Regions from separate parts of the Homo sapiens genome. Here region 1 is linked to region 2. The links come from fine-mapping of genetic effects on gene expression. A gene starts in region 2. The other region holds a variant in brackets. All regions are shown on one strand. Distances are from middle to middle.

Region 1 (2,785 bases), 22 kb before region 2:
GCCTACAAATTCTCATGACCCCTTCAGGTTCCATAATTCACTAGAATGACTCCCAGAACTTAGGAAATGCTATGCTTACGATTTCAGTTTGTTTTTTGTTTTGTTTTGTTCTTTGTTTTGTTTTGTTTTTTTGTTTGTTTTTTGAGACAGTGTCTCGCTCTTTCGCCCAGGCTGGAGTGCAGCGGTGCGACCTCAGCTCACTGCAACCTCTGCCTCCCGGGTTCAAGCAATTCTCCTGCCTCAGCCTCCCAAGTAGCTGGGACTACAGGCGCCCGCCACCACCATGCCTGGCTAATTTTTATATTTTTAGTAGAGATGGGGTTTCACCATGTTAGCCAGGATAGTCTCACTCTTTTGATCTGGTGATCCACCCGCCTTGGCCTCCCAAAGTGCTGGGATTACAGGCATGAGCCACTGTGCCTGGCCCTGATTTCAGTTTTCTTAACAAAATACAAATCAGGACCTGCCAAATGAGAAGATACATAGGGTGAGGTCTGGGAAGGTCCCAAACACGGAGCTCCTGTGTCCTTCCCCATAACGTCAGCACACATCACTCTCTCTATGCCTTCCCCACTCTCAGGGTGATGGGTTCACCAGCCAGGAAGCTCCAGAGCTCGGTGTCCTGAGTTTTTTTGGGGTTTCAGTATGTAGGCAGGATTGATCCAATTACTCCTTCAGTGTTTCAGTTTTGTTTGTTTTTTTTTTTTGAGACCCGGTCTTGCCCTGTTGCCCAGGCTGGAGTGCAGTGGCATAATCATAGCTCACTGCAGCCTCAACCTTCTGGGCTCAAGTGATCCTCCCACCTCTCAGCCTCTCGAGTAGCTGGAACTACAGGCACATGTCACCACCCTGTCCAGCTAATGTTTGTATTTTTTGTAGAGACGGGGTTTCACCATATTGTTCAGGTTGGTCTTGAGCTCCTGAGCTCAAGTGATCCTCCTGCCTTGGCCTCCCAAAGTGCTGGGATTACAGGCATGAGCCACCTCACAAGGCCTCGGGAGTTTTTAGTGGGGTCTCATTACACAGGAAAGATTGACTGAATCGTTGGCCTTGTGATTGAACTTTATCTCCAGTCCCCCTTTTGGTCAAGTGGCTGCAAATTCCAACCCTCATGGTTGATGTATCTGGCATGACCAGCACCCATCCTAAGCCACCCCCTCATATAAACCCAAGTGTGGTCCAGGGCCCTGATGAATAACAAAGACTCACAGCACTTGGAAAATTCCAAGGACTTAGACACTTCCTAGCAGGAACCAGGGACAAATTCTTTACCACACGAGCTCCTCCCATCTTGAAATCCATCATCACGTCTGCAAAGTGTCTTTTGCCATATAAAGTGATGTTCACAGGATCCAGGGATGAGGACATGGTATATTGCAGGTCATCACAAATCTGTGTTAGCCAGGGTTGTCCAGGACTGAACTGATAGGATATGCGTGTGTGTGTGTGTGTGTGTGTGTGTGTGTG[A/TGA]GATATAGTTAGGATATTTGTCCCCACCCAAATCTCATGTTGAAATGTATCCCCAGTGCTGGAGGTGGGGGCTGGTGGGAAGTGTTTTGCATCATAGGGGCAGATTCTTCGTGAATGGCTTGGACCATCCCCATGGTGATAAGTGAGCTCTCACTCAAAGTTCACATAAAATCTGGTTGTTCAAAAGTGTGTGATACCTCCCCTGCCACGCTGTCTCTTGCTCCTGCTTTCGCCATGTGAGACACCTGCTTCGCCTTTGTCTTCTGCCATGATTGGAAGCTTCCTGAGGCCCCTCCAGAAGCAGATATCTCTGCTATGCTTCCTGGACAGCCTGTAGAATCATGAGCCAATTAAACCTCTTTTCTTCTAAATTACCCAGTCTCAGGTATCTCTTTATAGCAATGCAAGAATGGCCTAACACAGCTGGGTGTGGTGGCTCACGCCTGTAATCCCAGCACTTTGGGAGGCCGTGGCGGGCAGATCACTTGAGGTCAGGAGTTCGAGACCAGCCTGGCCAATATGTTGAAACCCCATTTCTACTAAAAATACAAAAATTAGCCAGGTGTGGTGGCGGGTGCCTGTAATCCCAGCTACTTGGGAGGCTGAGGCAGGAGAATCACTTGAACCTGGGAGGTGGAGGTTGCACTGAGCTGAGATCACACCATTGCACTCCAGCTTGGGTGACAGAATGAGACACCATCTTGAGGAAAAAAAAAAAAAAAGAACAGCCTAACACAATATTAAAGGGAGTTTATTTGGGAGAATTAGCTCACACAATTATAAGGCGAAGTCCCATAGTAGGCTGTCTGCAAGCCCGGGAAAGACAGAAAGTGGTAGTGTGGCTCAGTCCAAGTCCAAAAGCCTCAAAAATCATGGAAGGAGACAGTGCAACCTTCAGTCTGCAGCCAAAGGCCCGAGAACACCTGGGAGGCCACTGGTGCAAGTGCCAGAGTTCAAAGGCCAAAGAACCTAGAGCCTGATGTCCAAGGGTAGGAGGAGAGGAAACCAAGTGATTGGCACAGCAGGGGAAGAGAGAGGGAGCTGACTCAGCGAGCAAGCCAGCTTCTCCCGCCTTCTTCCACCTGCTTTGTTCTAGCCACGCTGGCGGCCGATGGGATGGTGCCCACTCACATTGAGGATGGGTCTTCCTCTCCCAGCCCACGGACTCAAATATCAACCTCCTCTGATAACATCCTCACAGACACACCCAGAAACAATGCTTCACCAGCCATCCAGGCATCTCCCTCCATCCGGTCAAGTTGACACCAGGTGTTAACCATCATAGCATCACAGCACAGGGCAGAGCCATCTGAGATAG
Region 2 (2,785 bases):
AAACCAGGCAGGGGGAACCCTAAGAGGGGGATGTCACCTGGTCCAGGGGGAAGAGGGAGCAGCTGTGGGGATGGGGAGAAGCAGGTTATTTTTTTGAGACGAGCCAGGCGCGGGTGCTGGGTGAGCGGTGGGGTGGAAGATCGGGAAGTGCTTGGACAAGGCCTGGACCTGGGCCGGGGTGTCTGGGTGGATGGACGGACTGTCCCACCAATGGGGACACACGAGGAGAAGGAGGAGGAAGCTTGGGAATAAGTCCAGCTGGGCCATGTTGTGAGGACATGGGGATGAAGTCTTAGTTCCAGGATGGGGCTGGGATGGAGTTTGGTGTTTCTTTTCTGTTTTTCTTTCTTTTTTCTTTTCTTTTTTTTTTTTGTGAGACAGAGTTTAGCTTTTGTTGCCCAGGCTGGAATGCAATGGCGCGATCTCGGCTCACCGCAACCTCTGCCTCCCGGATTCAAGCGATTCTCCTGCCTCAGCCTCCCGAGTAGCTAGGATTACAGGTGCCCACCACCATGCCCAGCTAATTTTTTTTTTTTTTTTTTTTTTTTTGTATTTTCAGTAGATACAGGGTTTCACCATGTTGGCCTTGAACTCCTGACCTCAGATGATCCACCTGCCTCGGCCTCCCAAAGTGCTGGGATTACAGGCGTGAGCCACTGTGCCCGGTCTCTCTCTCTCTCTTTCTCTCTCTCTTTCTTTCTTTCATCTCACTGTGTTGCCCAGGCTGATCTTGAACTCCTGGGCTCAAGTGATCCACTCACCTCTGCCTCCCCAGTAGCTGGGATCACAGGCATGCACCACCATGCCCTGCTAGTTTTTATAGTTTTTGTAGAGACAACGGCTTGCTATGTTGTCCAGGCTGGTCTTGAACTCCCAGGCTTAAGTGATCCTCCCACCTCAGCCTCCCAAAGTGCTGGGATTACAGGCGTGAGCCACCGTGCCCAGCCAAAACTGTCCATATTTGACCTGAATATTATCTCACGTATCTTTCTTTCCCCCCGCTTCCCTCCTTCCCTCCTACTCCTCCTTCTCCCTCTCCTTCCTTCTGTCTTTTTTTTCCCCTTCCTCTGCCTCTCTCTCCTCTTCCCTTTTTTCTTGCTGGGACTCAAACCTGGGACATTTGACCTGGGAGCCTATTTGCTCAATCATCAAGAGACATAATCTCATGGTGGGGTGTCTGCTGGTAAGTGCCGGGTGGCAGGATCCCAACTCCAGGCCGTCCTTCTAACCCAAGAGGCCCTGCCTCTGCCTAGAGCCTTCCGTGGCTCCCCAGGGCCCTCTGTGATCGGCCATAGTGGTATGATTCAGTGTGCAGTAACAGTGGTTCACATCTTGACGCTACCACTCACCTCCTTCAGCCCTGTGGGAACTTGCTGCTTAACATCTCTAGTTCTCACCCAATTCTCTTACCTGAGAAATGGAGATAATAATAACACGGACTTCACCCGGGTGTGGGGAGCACCAGGAGAGGCCATGCGTGTAATGTTATCCGGGTGGCAAGCCCATATTTAGGTCTATGAAAATAGAAGCTGTCAGTGGCTCTACTTTCAGAAGAAAGTGTCTCTCTTCCTGCTTAAACCTCTGTCTCTGACGGTCCCTGCCAATCGCTCTGGTCGACCCCAACACACTAGGAGGACAGACACAGGCTCCAAACTCCACTAAGTGAGTACGTATCTGGTGTGTTGGGGGTTGGCCATGGGAAGTGGAGATCAAAGCGCCCTTGGAAGAAACGACCTTGGGCTGAGCCTCAAGGGATGACCAGCAGGAGGTCACAACCAGAGAAGGGAGGTGGTGGGTGGTGAGGGGGCGGGGGTGGGGGCCGCAGTGTGGACAGAATCTCGAGGCATTCGAGTCCCTGATTTGGGGAAGTGAAAGCAGGCCATCTGGTCTGAGATGAGCTTGGTGAGTGCGCTGGGCCGATCATAGAGGGCCCTGGGGAGCCATGGAAGACTCTAGGCAGAGGCAGGACCTCTTGGGTTAGAAGGACGGCCTGGAGTTGGGATCCTGCCACCCAGCACTTACCAGTAGACACCCCACCATGAGATTATGTCTCCAGATGATTGAGCAAATGGGCTCCCAGCTCAAGGGTCCCGGGTTTGAGTTCCAGTCCCACCACTGCGTGATGGGGACAAATGACTTACCCTCTTGGAACCTCAGTTCCACTGAGAGAGGCCCCACAGAATGAGGACAGTCCCCCAGCATCCTGCCAGTAGGTTTACTGAGCACCTACTGTGTGCTGGTGCTTTGAATACTCCCAATTTACAGATGAGCAAACTGAGCTGCTCATCCAGGAAGAAGCCAGGACTCGGACTCAGGTCTGTCCAGCTGCCTCCCTGGACAGTTCCAGTCCCAGGATGGTCTCTGGGTTCCTCTCACAATGTCAAAAGGGCCAGCTTGAGCTGCCGCTAATCAGAGCCTGGCCGCGCCACACCCCACCTCCCTGAGGCTCCGAGAGAAGGGACTTACCTATAGTCAAGCAGCGAAAGAAGGTAGCCCGTGACCTCCAGGCCTGAAGGACCCCAAGTCCCATGCTCCTCAGCACATAGTAGATGCTTTAAAGTCAGAGGACTTGGTCGGGCGCAGTGGCTCACGCCTGTAATCCTAGCACTTTGGGAGGCTGAGGAGGGCAGATCACCTGTGGTCAGGAGTTCGAGACCAGCCTGATCAATATGGTGAAACCCTGTCTCTACTAAAATACAAAAATTAGCCAGGTGTGGTGGTGGGTGCCTGTAGTCCCAGCTACTTGGGAGGCTAAGACAGGAGAATCGCTTGAACCCGGGAGGTG

Evidence for each region. PIP is the estimated chance that this variant, and not a neighbour inherited with it, causes the effect.
Region 1: its variant is the best candidate, but not a certain one, in a credible set for the expression of FCER2 in whole blood (INTERVAL, PIP 0.78).

The regions. Positions count from the first base shown.
Region 1 is chr19:7,723,155-7,725,939 of GRCh38, reverse strand. No RefSeq gene overlaps it. Among named protein-coding and RNA genes, the nearest start is that of CLEC4G, 7.6 kb to the left of the region's middle. The variant A/TGA (reference allele first, on the strand shown) is at 1,468.
Region 2 is chr19:7,700,896-7,703,680 of GRCh38, reverse strand. FCER2 (Fc epsilon receptor II) reads left to right here and starts at 1,550. Exons shown (of 11, transcript NM_001220500.2): 1 at 1,550-1,666. It overlaps LOC105372262 (a long non-coding RNA gene), which reads left to right. Exons shown (of 5, transcript XR_936296.2): 5 at 560-601. RefSeq lists an enhancer at 1,554-1,663.